4 separate regions of the Homo sapiens genome follow, and all the other regions are linked to region 2. Evidence: fine-mapped expression QTL. A gene starts in region 2. Each other region holds a variant in brackets. All regions are shown on one strand. Distances are from middle to middle.

Region 1 (5,149 bases), 62 kb before region 2:
CATTCGAGGGTGCTTGGAAGCATGAACTCTGGGGGTGTTTTTTTTTTTGGTTATTTTAATTATGTGATGATGCTGTTAAGCTTACAGATATGCAGTTGATTTTTTAAAAAGCTTAACTAGGAATCTTTCTGAATACTTGTCCTATTTTGAAACTACCTGTCTGGTTTTTTGTTTGGTTTTGTTTTCTTTTTTTAATGTCAGAGGAATCTATCCATGTGAATCGAAAGGCACAGGAATCTAGGAACTCTGAGGAATTTATTGTGAAGGATTTTGTTAGGGGGTTGACAGAGAAAGCAAAGTGTAAGTTTGGAAGAAGGCATGTGCGGTGGTGGCGAGTGCTGCGGGCTATGGAAGGTGACTTGGCTTTTCAGTTAGGGGTAGTGGAGAAAGGGGTAGTTGCTTGTAAACGAGTTAAAAGCATTCAGTGTGGAGGTGTTAAACCCATTTTAGGATCGCTTGGTTTCCTGGTGGGTAGAATATGGGAACAGAGCCAGAGGCAGGAGCTAAACCAAAAGGAGGGACCCATGAACTCTGCAGCTGACCAATCAGAGAATCAGGCAGGTGTAGCCTACTGACCTGGGCAGAGGTGGGCCTCACGCAGCTGGATCCGACCCTTTAATTCTGCCCTTTTGGAGTGGAAGGTCTGATTGGTGTAGCTGCTCTGCATAGGCAGGACAGTGACAGTTCACTAACTCTTGTTAAGTTACATAGTGTATAGCTTTCCCCCCACAGGTGGTTTTCAAAGTTGAGACGGAATTTGGGTAGGGGCAGCTGTTTTTCCCTTGATTGTTAGCTAGGATATTTGTCAAGTAAACTTTGGTGACAATCACTCTCTTCCCTTTTATTCCTCCTTTCCTTTTCCTTTCTTCCCTTTTTTCTTTCCTTCCCTGCTGTCTCCCACCCTACCTTGTTCTTTTCCTCCCTCCCTCCCTCCCTCCCTCCCTCCCTCCCTCCTTCCCTCCCTCTCTCTCCCTCTCCCTTTCTTTTCTACATTGAAATCTGTTCTTACATAATAGAGAACAGGGCTATTGAATAAAGACCCAATCCTACCAGATCTTTAGTTCTAAAGGGCAACTTGACTGTGAGTAGGAGGGCCCCCAAGAAAGGGAGGAAAGTCCACACCCAGCTAACCACACAACAGGGCTTCATTATGGAAATATTTTAACAAAAGTACATGTTATTACCAACCAAAGAGATGCATGTGCAATAGAAGCCTTCCTTAAAAACAGGCTAAATAACCTCATTTTATGCAGCAGTTTAATCTGAGAACAGAGGGAAAGGTGTGCAGTGGTTCCAGAGGGGCCTTATATTCTATTTTTAGTCTAGATATTTTTTGTTTATAAATTCCCAAGGAATTGTTAACACTTTGGTGACACCTAATGGATTCTTTTTGAAATTCCAAGGTGCTTCAGTTCTTTGCCCAAGTGAACTGTGCCTTTTATTGCATTTCTGTTCGTCTCTTGGTGGCTCTTCTGACTTTTTGGAGAATACCCATCTTGTTGGAGGCAGACTTAAGTTGTTATGCTGTGCCACACAATTTACTGAGACAATCATATCTTCCTAAGCATTTAAGGAAAGTTGAAAAAAATAGAATTAGCTATAAAATATGTATGGCACATCTTGTTTAATTTTGCATGTAACTTCTCTTTTGTACATTGATGAGGTTTTAGTGACATTGTCATCCAACACTTTACCTTTATTGTTCAGGGAATGCCTTCGTGATTTTTTGTACTGGTTTTATTATTCAGACTATGGCCTGGATTTGAGTATATTGTTATTACCACCTGGTTTTTTAATTATTCATCCCAGTAAACTTATATTTTGTGAAGCATTTGTTTCTCAGATTAAGACACTGTTAGAACCTAAAGTAGTAGCTGATGGGTATCTGTGAATTTTTTTTTTTTTTTTTTTTTTACTTGAAGTAGATTGTCTGAATAGGCATCCTCATCTATATTTACCCAAAACCTCGCTTACTGTCATGTGCACTACAAATTGCAATTTGGAAACCTACTGTATTGAAATTCTGTCAGTTTATGGTTCTTGAAGACTGATGTCCTTTCCCAAACACTGGTTACTGCAGCAGCATTTTTAATGTGTAAGTGAAGAAAAAAGGCCACTAAGGCCAAAGATTTTTTAAGAATCATTGTACAAATCATTATGTTAAACTATCTAAGCTTTGCTGTAATACTGTTTTCTCTTCAATATGTGATGGTACAGGAAGGATGTTAAATGAAGGGGTGGTATTGCAGGAGAGCATTTTAAATGGCAGAAGTAAAAAGTTATAATATTTATAATTTTGATGGGTTTAAGTTTATTTTTGTAGGGAAGATTTTTCTCCCCTAAAATAGTTTCTAGAATGGCAAAA[T/G]TGTTTCCATTATTAAAAATTGAAGTTATTAGTTGTTTATGTGTGTTTATTTATGATAATATGCTAGATTTAAAAAGGTCACAGGAGTGCGCTGAGCTGCTTTTGCACATATACACAGGGACACATGCTGGAATGCAACAACTTTACTAGGTTCGCGTGGGTCATATTTGTTCTCCCAGATATCATTTTCTCTTTGCCTTATCCTCTGAGGAAAAATAACCCTAAGCTCACACAGCATATTCCAATGTATTTAAAACAATTGTTTTAATTTTTGAAATATACACATTTAAAAGTATATAAAGCATGCAAAAGAGGAGGGAGGCCGAGAGTGAAAAAATAAAAATAAAAAAGCATGCGAACAGTTTAAAGGATTATTATATAAAATGGACACCCCCTGACCATTACTAAAATAGAACCTTGTCAGTTCTTTAGAAATCTCTCCCTCCACCCCTGTTCTTGCCCTGAGGTCTCCTACCCCTGAAACATACCACTTCAACATAAAGTGAGTATTTGTATTTTTTTGGTCACCATGACTGCCTTACACAGATGGGATGGATAGTGTCTGGGGAACCACAGGGACGATGGAGTGCCACCCTCTGCGCACCTGCACCTCGGCTTTGTGCCATGGTTTCAGCTTCCATGCCTGCTGTTGGGAGTGTTTTTACTACTACACTGCCCCCTGGAGGGGCTGATGAAAGGAGCAAGGCTGGCACCAGGTGGTAGAGGCCTTTCACGTACCATAGCTGCTCCCTAAATAAAAATACTGTGATAGAAAATTATGGCTCTGTATAATTTTGCTTTTCTACTGAAATATTCAGAGGAATCAGGTTTGGGGGTTCTACTTGGGTTACTACCCAAGGTGCGTGGAGAATGTTTGGGAATTTTTATATTTTTATCCTTTATTTTTTTTGGAGATGGAGTCTCAATGTGCCACCCAGGCTAGAGTGCAGTGGCATGATCTTGGCTCACTGTAACCTCCACCTCCCAGGTTCAAGCGATTCTCCTGCCTCAGCCTCCCTAGTAGCTGGGATTACAGGTGCCTGCCACCATACCCGACTAATTTTTTTTTTTGTATTTTTAGTAGCGACGGGGTTTCTCCACGTTGGCTAGGCTGGTCTCAAACTCCTGACCTCAAGTGACCAACACACCTCAGCCTCCCAAAGTGCTGGGATTACAGGTAGGACTTTTTTTTTTAAGTCAATTTTTATTACTAAAAAAAAACCTTTTTTTTTGAGATAGAGTTTCACTCTGTCTCCCAGGCTGGAGTGCAGTGGCACGATCTGGGCTCACTGCAACCTCTACCTCCTAGGTTCAAGCAATTGTCCTGCCTCAGCCTCTGGAGTAGATGGGATTACAGGCGTGTGCCACCACACCTGGCTAATTTTTGTATTTTTAGTAAAGACGGGGTTTCACCCTGTTGGCCAAGGTGGTCTCAAACTCCTGACCTCAGGTAATCTGCCGGCCTTGGCCTCCCAGAGTGCTGGGATTACAGGTGTGAGCCACCGTGCCTGGCTCACATGAATATTTATTGAAACAACAGTTATCAGTTGGTGACAAATTCGGAGACACTGTCAGATAACGCTAATTAGGTATTTTGTTTTATTGAAAGAAGGGGGCTGGGCGCGGTGGCTCATGCCTGTAATCCCAGCATTTTGGGAGGCCGAGGTGGGCAGATCATGAGGTCAGGAGTTTGAGACCAGCCTGACCAAACATGGTGAAACCCCGTTTCTACTAAAAATACAAAAATTAGCTGGGCGTGGTGGCGCACACCTGTAATCCCAGCTACTCAGGAGGCTGAGGCAGGAGAATTGCTTGAGCCAGGGAGGCGGAGGTTGCAGTGAGCCGAGATCGCCCCATTGCACTTAGCCTGGGCGACAAAGTGAAACTCCGTCTCAAAAAAAAAAAAAAAGAAAAGGGGCCAGGCACAGTGGCTCATGCCTGTAATCCCAGCACTCTGGGAGGCCAAGGCGGGCTGATCTCTTGAGGCCAGGAGTTCAAGACCAGGTTGGCCAACATGGCAAAACCTCTTCTCTGCTAAAAATATAAAAATTAGCCAGGCGTGGTGGCACACGACTGCTGTCTCAGCTACTCAAGAGGCTGAGGCAGGAGAATTGCTTGAACCCGGGAGGCGGGGTTCAAGCCCCGTGATTGCGCCACTGTACTCCAGTGAGCCGTGAGTACTGCAGTGAGCCATGATTGCGCCACTGTACTCCAGCCTGGGCAACAGAGCAAGACTCTATCTCAAAAAAAAAAAAAAAAAAAAAAAGGGTGGTGGTGAAGGTCTACACTATAGTAGCCAATGCCAACAAAGTGCTTACCATGTGCTAGGCATTCTTCTGAAATGCTTAATATGTATCAACTCATTGACTCTCCTGTGACGTTATCACACTATTTCGTCATATCCCTTTTTTCACAAATGTGGAAATGGACATGTTGAGGTTTAGCAGCTTGCTCAAGGCCACTGTGTGAGTGAGTGGCAGAGCCGGACACTGCCCCGTTTCTCTACCATCTTTTCCTGTAAGTGCTCTCTAGTTTCTCAGTTAAATTGCCTATTGAGTAAAGGAGCAAAAGTCTGTTAAATTGCCGTAATGGACAGTTTGCCCAGAAGCGTAACTGTTTTGGTGCCATTGGGGTTTGTTGATATCAGTGTGTTCTCATCCATTTTGGTTCATTTATCATTTCATTCAGGTGATTATACTAAGTCACATAGAATGAAATGCTGACCTGTGCTTTCTTTTTATTTTTTCGGATGGGGTTTCACCTTGTCATCCAGGCTGGAATGTA
Region 2 (5,149 bases):
CTCTCTCCAGTAGAAACACTTATTAAAAAAAAGAATCTGGGCCGAGACAGTGGCTCATGCCTGTAATCCCAGCACTTTGGGAGGCTGAGGTCCAGGAGTTCAAGAGTTCAGGAGTTCAAGAGTTACTTGAGTCCAGGAGTTCAAGACCGACTTGGGCAACATGGAGAAATCCTGTCTTTACAAAATATTTAAAAATTAGCTGGACGTAGTGACATGTGCCTGTAGTTCCAGCTACTAGGGAGACTGAGGCAGGAGGACTGCTTGAGACTAGGAGTTCAAGGCTGCAATGAGCCTTGATTGTACCACTGCACTCCAGCCTGGATGACAGAGCAAGACCCTGACTCAAAAAATCTGCTACTGGCTTAACGAAGCAAATTGGATTAACATACTAAAGAGACCTCAAATACACACAGACTACAGCTGTGGTTTATAAGAATTGAAGAAACAACTCTGAATACCTTATATTTAAGTAATCAATTTTGTTTTCAACACCTAAAAAAGCCTGACCTTTTAACTGAGTACTTAAGTCACTGCTAGAGAAGGCTTGCTTTTTCTGGACAAAACACTCTTCAAGGACACATTTTCTTTTTTTTAATAAAAAAGGAATTTTGTGAGCAGACAAGTAAGTGCAGTAGTTGGAAGAGTAGTGAACCTAAAGTGTAGGAGGAAAATTAAATTAAGACCAATGTCAACATGGCTTGGTAGAAACTAACAGACAATGAAGCATATATGGCAGGAAGAAATGTGTAGTCAAAATGCAAGCCTCTTAAAACATCAGCTATAAAAGACTCTCAAGCTCTTGAGCATCAACCTAAGAAATATATTTTACAACTCGGGAAGAAAGAGAGATAGATAATGATTACCTTTATCAAGTGTAACACACACACTCACACACATGGACCTTTTCTATTCTATTCTATTCCAGAGGAAATAAAAAATGTTGGTAGTTACTCACTAAACTGATTTCATAACTCACTCAAGGGTTGGGACCAGAGGTTTGAAGGACACTGAGCTAGGGTGTGTAACTACACAAGAAAAGTTAGGAACGTCTTGCCTGGAGTATTTCATAGTCTCAGCATTCAGCTGAAAGCAAAAAGAGAACTGAAACGAAGAAAGCAATAAAGCATTTGGTTTTAAAGCGAAGAGAGGAATGCTGAACCCAGGGTCAGAGGACTCTGCCTCAACTACTCATGTCTTGGGCAAGTTGCTTTCTGGGCCTCCATGGGGAAGGGGTTGGAGTGGATGTTTCCAAAGGTCACACATTCCATAATTCTGCAATACACAAGCAAAATTTACTCTGGAAAAAAAATGAAGTCTTGTGACAACACCCATTAGATAGAAAATGAAACACTGACAGTCTCTAATGCAACAGTCAGGTGTTCAATCACACTAATTGAATTTTCTTGATTCTTGTGAGGCAACACACACCCTCAATAGTTCGACGGTCGGCCTACCAGATTAGTTCACTTCAGGCCTTTTTTTTTTTTTTTTTTTTTTTTTTTTTTTGGAGACGGAGTCTCGCTCTGTCGCCAGGCTGGAATGCAGTGGCGCGATCTCGGCTCACTGCAACTGCTGCCTCCCGGGTTCAAGCGATTCTCCTTCCTCAGCCTCCCAAGTAGCTGGGACTACAGCTGCGCGCCACCACGCCCAGCTAGAATTATTGTATTTCTAGTAGAGACGGGGTTTCACCATGTTGGCCAGGATGGTCTCGATCTCTTGACCTTCTGATCCGCCCGCCTCGGCCTCCCAAAGTGCTGGGATTACATGAGTGACACACCGCGCCCGGCCCAGGCTTATTTTTATTGACATCAGATACAGACATTGTATACAGGCACAAACGTGGAGGTGGTCTAGGTCCCTCATAAAGGGGACTGGACTTGTCTGTGATCCTCTAATCCAAAAGAAAAACAATCAGGCCTTGAGTGCTCTTAGACAGCACCTGATCCTCATTGGTTCAACCCATCCTCCACTGGTCTCCACATGTTTATCTTGAGATATTAACGTAAACTCCACAGCAGTACGGTCCAGACTAGAAGCTCTGTGTGCTGTACGCATGTGCCTCAATCCAGAAAGGAAAAGAGTATTGCAGTCCCTTACACCGGCATAAAGGGCCTCAGGTGGGAAAACCAAACCTACCCAAGGATAAGACAGCCAGTTCGGGGAGGAGGGTGGTGGGGACCGGGAAAGAGAGCAACAAACCGGGTAGTCAGCCCAAGAGATAGAGGGGCGGGGCAGAAACAGAAGAGTTACCATGCCGCCGAGCACTTCGTCCTGGTCGTCCGTGAGGAGCAGCACCACGTTGGGCCTCCGGGTTCCCGCAGCCACCCCGAAGACCCCCAGGCAGCCGCCCAGCACCAGCAGTAGCAGCGCTGGGCTGCAGGAGGGCAGGTGGCGGGGGCTGCCCCGCCGGAGCCGACCTGGGGCTAGAGGCAGGAGCCGCATAGCGGACAGGCTCCGGGGTGACCCCGGGACGGGACGGGACGGAGGGACGCACAGGTAGCTGAAGGGCGAGAGGCCGACCAGCCGAAGGAATAAAAAGCCGTGCCTTGAAGGCCGGTGGCTGGAGTCAGACGTTTTCTCCCTAGGCGCGATCACGTGAGCCAGGGACAGGGGGCGGAGCACGCTGCGCGGTCACGTGACGGCCGGCGTGGGCGGGGCTGCGGACTGGCGCAGCCTGGAGGGAGGCATCAGGCAGTGGCGGAAAAGGGGCGGAGAACCGGAGAAAAGGGCGGAGAACCGGAGAAAAGGGCGGAGAACCGGAGAAAAGGGCGGAGAACCGGGAAAAGGGCGGAGAACCGGGAAAAGGTCAAGACCTGTACGTACCTCTCGCGCAGGCTCGGGTTGCGTTCTGGTAGGACGTACGTGTTTCTGAGCGCTTGGTGGAAAGATTTAAATGGGGGGAAGAGAAGATGAAAAGCAGGAAAGAGTTGGCAAATACTAACCAACCGATAAAGGAAGAGAAAGGAGGACTGTACATAACAGAAATTATCATCAGCTGGTGAGGAAAGTGGACTCTACCATATTTAATCCCCAAGTCGACGGGCACTTATTCAAGGCCCGGATGTTTAATCGTTTTTAATTTTCTCTACAACTTGTGAGATAAATCTTAACATTCTCATTTGGCTCAGACATTAAATTCGGAACTGGTTAGCTCTCTTAACTCCAAAGCCTAATTATGTTCTTCTTTCCTCAGCAGACATCGTAGTTTCAAACAATTTAGGGATGTCCTGACAGCTTTATCCTAATGGTTATCCTAATGGTCCTTGGTGACTTTTTAAACACCCTCTTGGAACATGTTGGAGGATGTGCAGATCGAACAAAAATCTTGAAACGTGGTCATCCAACTGCATTATTAAGTAATCTTTAGCGGGGAATAGCCCTTGAAACTAGCTCCAGATATTTCTGTGGTCGCTCTGGAATAATTAGACTTTGCCCCTCTCCTCTCACCGCCCACCGTGGGCGCGGTGGCTCACGCTTGTAATCCCAGCACTTTGGGAGGCGGGTGGATCACCTGAGGTCAGGAGTTTTAGACCAGCCTGGCCAACGTGGGGAAACCCCGTCTCTACTAAAATACAAAAATTAGCTGGGCGTGGTGGCAGGCGCCTGTAATCCCAGCTACTCGGGAGGCTGAGGCATGAGAATCGCTTGAACCCGGGAGGCGGAGCTTGCAGTGAGCCACTGCACTCTGGCCTCAGGGACAGAGCGAGACTCTTGTCTCAAAACAAACAAACAAACAAAAAATCACAGAGATATTCCTGGCAAGGTGAACTGTCAAGTCACATCCCCAGACCGATATAACAAGGTATACCTCCTTGCTGGTAAAAGTATTTTCTCTGAGTTGAACTGTTTGCCAAGAAGAGTCTCTTAAAACTCGTGAAAACTATTCCAGAACTTAAAGTATTAAAAAAAAAAACTCGTGAAAACACTATACTATAAGGTAAAAATAATGATGGAAACACGTTGAAACCTGATGTGTACAAGGATAGGGCTTATGCAAAAAAAAAAAAATTACCTTTATTACTTTGTTTTTTTCACACAGAGGGGTAATGCGCGGAGTCCTAACAAGGTTTGAGGTAGGGGTGGTAACTCACACAATAGCATGAAAACCCAATCATCAGGCTTATGAACCACAAAAGGATCTTAATACTTTTTTTTTTTAAGTAAGCCTACAGAAGGCAAAAGAAGCTTTAAAAAAACTGAAGTAGTTTTTCTGCAAGAAACAATTATGCCGGAAGTGTGGTCAGAGCAGTTCCTAGACAACCAGAATACTTGGTTACAGCCTTGGCCTAGGCCAATTTTTCAAGCTGGTTAGAATAACTAATCCTTCTGTATTCAGGTTTCAAGACTTCCAGGAAGACTTTCTTGCACAAAAAAATAACCTATTTCATCTGTATCGAAGCCCCAAATTGTAAAATTGTTTCTTTTCTATTTTTTTCAAGGTTAGATTATAAACTATTTGAGGCCAGAAATTGTGTAATTAGTTGCCCACTTTGTTCAGGATGCTGCTGTCAGAGGCGATTGAACCAGAGCAACTCCATCTTGAAAAGGGGCTGAGTAAAATAAGCCTGAGGCCTGCTATGCTGCATTCCCAGATGGTTATGCATTCTAAGTCACAGGATGAGATAGGAGGTCATAAAGATACAAGATACAAGATGCATGTCATAAAGACCTTACTGATGAAACAGGTAGCAGTAAAGAAGCCGACTAAAACCCACCAAAACCAAGATGGTGATGAAAGTGACCTCTGGTCGTCCTCACTGCTAAATTCCCACCCAGCGCCATGACAGTTTACAAACGCCATGGGAATGTCAGGAAGGTACCCTCTCTGGTCTAAAAAGGGGAGGCATGAATAATCCATCCCTTGTTTAGCATATCATCAAGAAATAACCATAAAAATGGGCAACGAGTAGCCCTCGGGCTGCTCTGCCTATGGAGTAGCCATTCTTTTATTCCTCTACTTTCTTAATAAACTTTCTTTCACTTTACTCTATGGTCTTGTCCTGAATTCTTCCTTGCTCGAGATCCAAGAACCCTTTCTTGATGTCTGGATCAGGACCCCTTTCCGGTAACACTGCTACACTAGTGCTGAAGAGACATTGTCCCTCGTTCATGGAATTTGCAGTCTAATGGCAGAGAGATGGACAATCTA
Region 3 (5,149 bases), 28 kb before region 2:
GGAAAAACAATCTAGAACACAGCTGGTCTCATTTTCCTTTTCTACCTATACTAAAGTTCTCTTCCCCCCACCCCGCCCATGAGACAACAGCACTATTACCTTTTATACAGCCCATACTTTGGTCTGTTTCATAGATCCAAATATAACTATAATAACTTCAAACAAAATATAAAGGCTTATAAGGCTTGTATAATAGTATATCCCCCTGGCAAGTTACATATTTATTCTACCCATTCTGTTATTGATCAAAATGTTTTTTGAAAACTCCTTTGGGACTGCTTTGAGTTTGTTGCGAATCATGAGAAAAATGTTGGTCTAATTATTTTATACAAAGTGTCTTACAACTTGATTATTCAGATTAACTAAGTTTGATTTCAAATGAACTCCAGACATTTTGGAAGGCCTCAAAAAAGGAATGCTTCCCATCAGTGAGAATTATTAGCTCTTTTTATAGCTTCTCAAAGGGACAACACTGCCAAAATATGTTTGCAACAGGCTGTGAAGGCTGCAGAAAATTTATTCCAAAAATGTAGCAATAAAAGTTTTTTTAAGAGCAAAAGACTTAGATGTTTTTAAACATTCTAGAAACTAAAGGCATTGTCCTGTATTTATACTTTGACTTATTTCCTTGGTTATTAGACTATTTTCCTTCTGTAAGACAATGCCTCTACAGGGCCTAATCCAGAGTAGCCTAATGGAAATATAAAGGGGACCCCATATGTAATTAAAAATTGTCCAATAACCACATTAATAAAAACAGGTAAAACTGTATATATTTTAACCTCCTATAAAAATATCTGAATATTAATATTTCAACATGTAAACAATATTTTTTAAAAAATCAATGAGATTTAACTTTTTGTGAACCAAGCCTTTGAAATCTGGTATTTCACAATAATAATACATCTCCATTTGGACTATCCACATTTCAAGTGCTCGACAGCCACAAGTGGATAATGCAGGCCTAGAGAGAATGTAAGCATAGAAGTCACTTGGTCACAGGCTAGAAAAATCTTCAAGCACTGAAACAATCCATTGAGCGAAACAAAGAGGAAGTGAGAAAAACTGGGAACTAAAGTTTACTGTGCCAGGCATTTGACATTTATTCTCATTTATTCCTCATCACAGTCCTTGGACACAGTGTTTATAGGTGAAGAAATGAAACACAAATCACTGAAGCAAAGTTATCAGCTTATAACTGGAAAAGCCATTACTTACTGACAGGAAGTAACAGTCTTCAAAACTGTTGAGAACATTTAGATCATCTTAGGAGAGGCCAAACAGGGAGATAAAACAAAACAAAAACACCCCAGCCCTGCCACTTTTAATTTAAAAACAAAACCAAAAGTACAGATATGAAAGGCAAAAAAAAAAAAAAAAAAAAAAAGCTTCAGAATATTATCAGGGGCCAGGTTTCCTGATGGCCAGGACAGCTCTTAGAGGGCAGAATGATAAATATCCTGGCCCTGAATCAATTAGTCTAACTCTGCAGCTGTCAGGTATTACTGCCCAAAGGCAGGCACTTCAGGAGAAAGGCAATCCATATGTTACTCAGTGGGGGAAAAACCTCACACACAAAAAACGATGTCTCCAGGGATGATACAAGACCCACTGTTACAGATAATTTTCCTGGTTCGAAGACCCCCAGGCAAACTGAGCAGCTTGGAAAACAGTCATCAAGTGTGAATGTCAATATGGAAGAGGTCACAGCAGGAAAGGAGGGTCAGAGAGAGATACCATCTCCAGAATGAGATCAAGACAACAAGCCATCTACAGACCCTGAAGTGTGACTAACAGATCTTCAGTGATATCTGTAAAATGAATGAGGTGAAGCCAGTTCCTCAGATACTACTATGATGTCCAAGGCAGTTTTAAAAGAAAAGAGGAAACATAAAAAAACCCAGAGATATAAAATGGTGACTGTCATCTCACCAAAAATTGCAAGAGCCACCACCTGTATAATGGGAGGCTTGTTCCTTTTTTGGTGAGGTGGGGGGAAGCTCTTTTTTGTTTTGTTGTTTTTTGAGACAGGGTCTCATTTTGTCACCCGAGCTGGAGTGCAGTGGCACAATCACAGCTCACTGTGGCCTTGACCTCCCAGACTCAACTGATCCTCCTGCCTCAGCATCCAGAGCAACTGGGACTACAGGTACACACCATGATGCCCAGCTAAATTTTGTATTTTTTTATTTTTCGTAGCAATGCCATGTTGCCTGGGCTGGTCTCAAACTTCTGAATTCAAGTGATCCGCCTGCCCTGGCCTCCCAAAGTGCTGGGATTACAGGCGTGAGCCACTGCACCCAGCCGAGGCTCTTTCTAATGGCATTTTGCTCTCTGGAGATAAAGGGGTAAGTTCCAGTATAAATCCAAAGTCACTAAGATTCAGCACAAGTACCGTAAGCACAAGTCATTCCAGGACTCCTTCTCCCTAGAAATCTATAATGATCACACTCCCCTAAATATAATGGATAAAATGTCTCCTCTTCTAGAATTTTATTTGAATAAGCGGACAGTCTCAAAATTAGCATACTATATCAGGAGATGGGAGACTTCTAGCAAATACCAAGTATGAATGAAGAGTTAAAAAGAATTATACCTACCTCTGGTTTTTATATAACCAAGAATTTGGATGGATTCACCCATCAATGTGATGACTTTGAGAAACACTAGTTTCACAGTATTGCTTTTGTCTAGTATAAACTTAAAAATTCATTTAAGGGCTGGGCACAGTGGCTCTCGCTGGTAATCCCAGCACTTTGGGAGGCCAAGGCAGGAGGATCACTTGAGCTCAGGAGGCCAAGGCTGCAGTGAGCCATGTTTGAGCCACCACATTCCAACCTGGTGAGAGAGCACCTATCTCAAACAAACAAAAAAATCATTTACGGATTGGAACAGAAAAAGCTTTGACAAGACCAAAAATATATCTATTTTTTGAGACAGATTTTTTGCTCTGTTGCCCAGGCTGGAGTGCAATGGTGCGATCTCGGCTCACTGCAATCTCCACCTCCTGGGTTCAAGCAATACTCTTGCTTCAGCCTCCCAAGTAGTTGGGATTACAGGCACCTGCCACCACACCTGGCTAATTTTTTTTTTTTGTTGTTTTTTTTTTTTTTTTGAGACGGAGTCTCACTCTGTCACCCAGGCTGGAGTACAGTAGCACGATCTCAGCTCACTGCAAGCTCTGCCTCCCGGTTTGATGCCATTCTCCTGCCTCAGCCTCCCAAGTAGCTGGGACTA[C/T]AGGCGCCTGCCACCACGCCCAGCTACTTTTTTTGTATTTTCAGTAGAGACGGGGTTTCACCGTTTTAGCCAGGATGGCCTCGATCTCCTGACCTCGTGATCCGCCTGACTCAGCCTCCCAAAGTGCTGGGATTACAGGTGTGAACCACCGCGCCCAGCCTCTTTTTTTTTGAGATGGAGTCTCACTCTGTTGCCCAGGCTGGAGTGCAGTGGTGTGATCTTGGCTCACTGCAAGCTCCGCCTCCTGGGTTCACACCATTCTCCTGCCTCAGTCTCCCGAGTAACTGGGACTATAGGCGCCCGCCACCACACCTGGCTAATTTTTTGTATTTTTTAGTAGAGACGGGGTTTCACTGTGTTAGCCAGGATGGTCTCGATCTCCTGACCTCCTGATCCGCCTGCCTCGGCCTCCCAAAGTGCTGGCATTACAGGCGTGAGCCACCGCGCCTGGCCTAATTTTTGTATTTTTAGTAGAGACAAGGTTTCACCATGTTGGCCAGGCTGGTTTCAAATTCTTGACCTCAGGTGATCCACACCTGCCTTGGCCTCCCAAAGTGCTAGGATTACAGGCGTGAGCCACCATGCCCAGACAAAAAAATAAATTATTTGATAAATCACTTTCTCAGGTTGAGAATGTTCTTAGGATTTAAGTATATAAATATCCTAATCAAATGAAAGTCCTTAGAAAACCCTGGGGTAGACTGGCTGTGGTGGCTCATGCCTGTAATGAGGGGAGGAGGGCTGATTGCTTGAGCCCAGGTGTTCCAGACCAGCCTGGGCAACATAATGAAACCCCGTCTCTACAAAAACAAACAAACAAACAAAAAACAAAAAACAAAAATTAGCTGGGCATGGTGGTGTGCACCTATAGTCCCAGCTACTCAGGAGGCTGAGGTAGGAGAATCACCTGAGCCTGGGAGGTGGAGGATGCAGTGAGCCAAGATTGTGCCACCACACTCCAGCCTAAGTTACAGAGCAAGACCCTGTCTCAAAAAAAAAAAAAAAAAAAAAAAAAAAAAAATTCCTGGGGCTTAAATCAAAGGGTATCATGCATTGAACCTGCTTATTCTTGCTCTGAAAGAATGACACTTGCATAATTACTGAAAAGAACAAGATGGCAACGGGCTCTCAGAACACATCAGGTTTCCAGACACCCAAACCCTGATGTTGAATTTCTGTAGAGTTATCAAAGAAAAGGCTCCAAACATACCAGAAAGCACCCCAAATCCATTTAGTGAAAAGCACTGTAACTACATGAGAAAGTGCAGAATCCCATATCTTGGTTGCTTCAGCTGGACTTGCCCCTCAGTTCCAGCTTTCCTGACAAGGAAGAAGCTGGGGCATCACCTGGTTCCACCTGATAATGGAGGCTTAACATCCTCTTACTTTTACAAAAGTAGGGGAACCAAGGCTGATTTTGTCCAAAGCCAACAGGTCGTCTTCCTGACTCCCAGTTCAGTTCTATTTCCCTGGGACGGTGCTGTGTCATTCTAGTTTTCCTACTAACCTTTTCCTTTTTAGAATTCCTTTTGCAGAACTTCTACCACCAAATCTAAAGCTAAACTAGTCAGAGGAGAAAACGTCAATAGTCAATCTTTGACATCTACACATATGACCTTGTCCCATTTCTCCCACACAGCTTAAGTCCACCAGTCAGTTAAATGTGCACTGATCTGGCTGTCAAGGCTGCTGACAGCTCAGCTCATTATGCCCAACTCACAAGCCTGTGCCACTCACACAGAACAGCTGGCACTGAGACAACTATGCTGCCAACACATGATGCATCACCCATCGTCTCCGACATTCTTTGTGCCAGGGGAAAGCTGGGGCATTTCATGCTTCTCAAATTACACCTGTCAATGCAGCAATGTAAATTCTGAGAATGCACAGACTTAATTTTCAGTCCCTGATC
Region 4 (5,149 bases), 44 kb before region 2:
GTGGTCTTCAGAATTGCTAAGATATGAGGCAACCTATAAGCTCTGGGGTTGGCAAATTATGACCTACTTGTTTTTGAAAATAAAATTGTATTGGAACACAGCCACACACTTATCCATTTTCTATGGCTACTTTTGTGTTATAACAGCAGAGGTAAATAGCTGTGACAGTGAACACATGGCCTGGCAGCCTAAAATACTGGCCGTCTATCCCTATAAGAAGTTTGTTGACCCCGTAAGAAGTCATTCCTCATCTAGAGCAATGGATCACATGGCAAAGCACCTTTGAAGGCGAGCCTAGTCTGTTTGAAAGCCAGCCAAGATAAGACTTTTTCTCCAAAGCTGTAAATACATACAGATTTATCAGGAAATATTTTCTACATGGTGCTTCATTCAGGGGTTATCAGTAGGGGCCATGTATGTAAGAGCTATACAGGTAGAGACTATAGGATCTGACTAGAAAGCCCATTTCCAGTACTAGGTGAGTGATTAAAACAAACTGCATCAGAAGAAAGCATCTTGTCAAAATTACTACTTGTGAACTAAAACAAAGGACACATTCCCACTAGAACAGAAATAAATTTTAATTCATTGAAAAGTGCAGCAGTGAACAGGGTCCTTTTGAAGGGCACTTTCTAAGTCAAATGACTGAGATGACACAGAGCAAGGGCAGAATAGGAACAGAGGATGCAAACACAGGAAGTTACAAAATTCAGTGGGAACTAAGTGGTGGTAAAACTCAAGAACCCAACTCTACCCATCTAATTCCATTGGTGGATCAGTTGAATTAACTTTTGCTTTCTTTAGGATGAATCCTGGGACAACTTTCCTTTAAAAAAGCACTAAACCTTAGTTTAGACACTTAATAAGTTTAAGAACACTTCTCACAGAATAAGGTAAAACTTCCATGGCTATCATTACTATTTTGTACAACAGCCCTAGTGTTGTCAATTAAAATGTGTTTGCAGGCCGGGCACGGTGGCTCACACCCGTAATCCCAGCACTTTGGGAGGCCGAGAAAGGTGGATCACCTGAGGTCAGGAGTTAATCAGCCTGGCCAACATGGTGAAACCCCGTCTCTACTAAAATTACAAAAATCAGCCAGGTGGGGTGGCAGGCGCCTGTAATCTCAGCTACTTGGGAGGCTGAGGCAGGAGAACTGCTGGAACCCAGGAGGTGGAAGTTGCAGTGAGCCGAGATCACGCCACTGCACTCCAGCCCGGGTGACAACCGCGAGACTTCATCTCAAAAAAAAAGTGTTTGCAACAGCACCATTTGTCAAATTCAAAGATGCTCAAAAGGTGTTCCCTACTTTGCATGAGAGGGAGAGCTTTGTAACAGGAAATTGTATAAGGCAAACTCTCTATTCATTCCTAAGGCCTCTGTTCATTCCTAATGTTTACATGGTTCTCTACTCTGAAGGGCACCAACATGGACCTCACCTTCTTAACATGGAAAATCAAAATCTAAATGAATACAATTAAAAGGAGGCAGCAAGCTTCTTGCAGTGGGTCCCTTAAACATTATGAAAACATCAGTGCATTGTGTAGTCTGTTACGCTATAAACTGAGGTCTCTTTATGAAAGATTATTTTAGCACAAATTCAGAATGAAGCCAGTCCAAGAAAAAAAGAATTGGAAGCTATTTGAAGGTTAGATAGGAAATATACCAAAAATAGAAGAGCGTAGAGAGGGCTGCACCACATCCTACCACGCAAGCACACCCACTGAACTGAGTAAGAGTGGCGTGGCTGAGGTGCCGTCAGCAGCTGACTATGTCACTCTTATGAGTTCTGCTCAGGAACAAGCATAAAACTGAATAATATGACATCACAGTCCAAGACCTGGTAAGAGTTGGTTTCTTTTTATTTGGAAATAACTATGGTCAACTTTCATTAATGTGGAAGTTGACTGATAATGTTAAGAGTCAAAGTGAAAAAGAAAGCCGATACCCATATTCAACAGTGCTTTCAGTTACAACATTTTTTGAATTTCCTTCTCTAAAACATTCACAGCAGAGGTGTCCATTTCACTTGCCTGTTTCACCTCTAGATACCACCACAGTTGCTGGGGTCATGTGAGGTAAAGGAATATATCCAATTGACTGTTAGCCCAACATGACTATCTGCAATTCTGATAGAAAAGCTACTTTCAGCCATGTCTTACAAAGTGCTTAAAGCTGGACAGAAGACTTTAAATAAAGCTAAAATCGCTTATTGCCTGAGTTGAACAAGTTACAAACCACAGCTCTTCCTCCTCCCCTGCTGTCTCACCACCAATTAGCCTTCTTGTGAGGACAACATTAGAAATGGAACTGGTTTTTGAGCCAAGAAACATAAAAATTTAGGTGTTCTTAGCCAAGCGTGGTGGCTCATGCCTGTAATCCCAGCACTCTGGGAGGCC[G/A]AGGTGGGTGGATCACAAGGTCAGGAGTTCAAGACCAGCCTGGCCAACATGGTGAAACTCTGTCTCTACTAAAAATACAAAAAATTAGCTGGGCGTGGTGGTGCGTGCCTATAATCCCAGCTACTCAGGAGGCGGAGGCAGGAGAATCGCTTGAACCCAGGAGGCGAAGGTTGCAGTGAGCTGAGATCATGCCATTGCACTCCAGCCTGGGTGACATAGTGAGACTCTGTCCCCACTTCTCAAAAATAAAAACATTTAGGTGTTCTCAACAGTGAAGAAACCTGAATAGATTTGATTTTGACAGGGGAATACTGATAATCATACAAGACTCCAAAACTCAGGAAGAACCCATCTAAAAGGGGAGAAGGTAGGGTAAAGTAGTTGATACTTTGCATCAACTGTAAGAAAATTTTCCACCTTAAAACAAATGAAGAGAATGACAGAAAAATGCAGATAGAGCCAATGACTTCATACATGGAACTTAAATTCAAGCTCCCTGCTGGACAGGCACTTCTTTCCTTTATCCCTGGTACAGCCCTTCCACTTGTCTGTTCAAGAGCCCTGTCTTCAGAAGGCCCTCGGAAGAGACAACCTTCACCAACTCTTGGCAGTTCTTCACTGCTGATGTTCCTAAGCCACTTCATTTTTCAGATCTCAGAGGGGAGTCTCAAGAGAAGGGACCTTGCCTTAATCCTTCCAGTGTTAACTGGCACTCCCTGTGGTTGGCAGCCACTGGAAAGTAGATGGCTATCACCTTCAAGAGCTACCTGGAATTGGCCTTTATCACAAGCTTACTGCTCTATTTCAGTGCAGCACCAGCCTAGAATTCACAAAAACATGAACAGAGCTTGGGTGACATGTTTTGAATTTGCAACCTTACCACACTGTGATGAACATCATAAAAAATGTATCTCTACTTATCAATCAACAATGGTACTTGTTCTTACTTGGATGATTCAGCTCTGATGGTTACTCTTCAAGCCATGTGATGTTAGTATTTTTGATAGTGAAGTGCTCAATCTGAAATGCTACACAGGTCCTTTGACTTTAGGTCAAGCTTACATATCAAAAGGTGTGTCTGTGTGTTTGTGTGTGTCCTAAAGTACTGCCATTTATCTGAATGGGTTTACAAATTCAGTCTTTAACCACAAGAGGAATAATCAAGAACTGTGGCCCCAGGATAAAAAGAATACAGTGAGAACAAAGACCTCAGGAGTGTCCTTGTCAGCTAAAGGAAGAGACCAGAGACAGCCACTCCTGACACATGGGCAGAGTTCACAGTTTAACACATTGCACGAGGAAGTCAGCTGACTGGGTTGCTTTTTCAAACAGGACTTAAAGCCAGCCCAGAAACTCTTCCAGGTGTGGTCTTGAAGACTAGCTACAGACACCTACTACAATCACTTCATCAGAAAGAGGCGTGCAGGGATCCATCTGCAGAGGCTGTGTGAGGTCGCTACAGAAGATGTTTGGAAAATCTTCGAGTCCTGACACTGCCGCGATTGCTGAACATGAGACGGGGGTCAAACCTGTATCTGGGGAGGAAAAACCAAATGTAACATTAGCTCTCACTAGCTTCTCACTCAGAATATTATTCAGTGGAAAGGATAGCAGGAAGGGGTGTAAAAGAAACAAATCACCAGAAGGGACTCTAGTGAGAAAGTCTATGGTACAAAACATGAGCCCTCGACAGTTCCGAACATTTCTATCACCAGTCAGCACACACAAAGTCACACAGTGCAAGTCAAGAGGAGAAAAACAAGTAGGTTAGTCTTGAAAGGTGTCAGAAGGCAGCAAGATTTGAGATTTTTTTCTTTTGAGGGAGTAGGGGTGGATCAACTGTTACATTATTACAGTGCTTGTGTTCAAGTCACCCTGATTTTATTTAACAATGGCTCCAAACCACAAGAGTAGTGGTGCTGCCAATTCAGAAATGCCAAAGAGAAGCCATAAAGTGCTTCCTTTAAGTGAAAAAGTGAACGCTCTTGACTTAATAAGGAAAGAAAAAAATCATACAGCAAGACTGCTAAGACCTACAAGAGCCTCACCATAAACATGAGTCATTTTTGGTGGGGGCGCTGGCAGGGGGACAGAGTCAGTCTGTCGCCCAGGCTGGAGTGCAGTGGCACAATTTCAGCTCACTGCAACCTCCACCTCTCCGGCTCAAGTGATTCTCCTGTCTTAAGCCTCCAGAGTAGCTGGGAACACTGGCGTGCGCCACCACACCTGGCTAATTTTTTTTTTTTTTTTTTTTTTTTGTAGAGACAAGAGTTTCACCATGTTGCCCAGGCTGGTCTAGAACTCCTGGGCTCATGTGATCTGCCCGCCTTGGTCTCCCGAAGTGCTGGGATTACAAATGTGAGCCACCGCGCCCAGCCAGGAATGAATCTTCTATCTGTGAAATCATGAAGAAGGAAAAACGAATTCTAGTTTTGCTGCCACACCTTAAACTGCAAAAGTTAGGGCCACAGTGCATGACAAAAGCTTAGTTAAGATGGAAAAGGCATAAAATTTGTGGGTAGAAGACATGAACAGAAACATCTTCCAACTGATGGCAACTGGGCCTGGCACTATCCTTGGGGCTTCACGCATCCACTGTGGGTTCTGGAATAGATCCTCTGTGGATAAGGGGGGACTACTGCATTTTAGAACTGCAATTGACCAAGATTTTTTGTAAAGGGCCAGATAATAAATATTTTAGGGTATGGGAGCCATACAGTCTCTGTCCCAACCATTCTCCTTTGCTGCTG

The links.
Region 1: its variant is fine-mapped to the expression of GNS in whole blood (TOPMed, PIP above 0.99).
Region 3: its variant is fine-mapped to the expression of GNS in tibial nerve (GTEx, PIP 0.94).
Region 4: its variant is fine-mapped to the expression of GNS in whole blood (TOPMed, PIP above 0.99).

The regions. Positions count from the first base shown.
Region 1 is chr12:64,695,169-64,700,317 of GRCh38, forward strand. It overlaps RASSF3 (Ras association domain family member 3), which reads left to right. Exons shown (of 5, transcript NM_178169.4): 5 at 1-2,396. Among named protein-coding and RNA genes, the nearest start is that of GNS, 62 kb to the right of the region's middle. The variant T/G (reference allele first, on the strand shown) is at 2,366.
Region 2 is chr12:64,756,835-64,761,983 of GRCh38, forward strand. It overlaps GNS (glucosamine (N-acetyl)-6-sulfatase), which reads right to left and starts at 2,572. Exons shown (of 14, transcript NM_002076.4): 1 at 2,251-2,572. The coding sequence starts at 2,442. LOC124903113 (small nucleolar RNA U13) reads right to left here and starts at 4,139; the gene lies at 4,034-4,139. It also overlaps a transcript of TBC1D30 not described here. RefSeq lists an enhancer at 1,118-1,998.
Region 3 is chr12:64,729,071-64,734,219 of GRCh38, forward strand. All of the region lies in intron 9 of GNS (glucosamine (N-acetyl)-6-sulfatase), which reads right to left. Among named protein-coding and RNA genes, the nearest start is that of GNS, 28 kb to the right of the region's middle. The variant C/T (reference allele first, on the strand shown) is at 3,238.
Region 4 is chr12:64,712,886-64,718,034 of GRCh38, forward strand. GNS (glucosamine (N-acetyl)-6-sulfatase) reads right to left here. Exons shown (of 14, transcript NM_002076.4): 14 at 564-3,934. The coding sequence ends at 3,856. Among named protein-coding and RNA genes, the nearest start is that of GNS, 44 kb to the right of the region's middle. The variant G/A (reference allele first, on the strand shown) is at 2,400.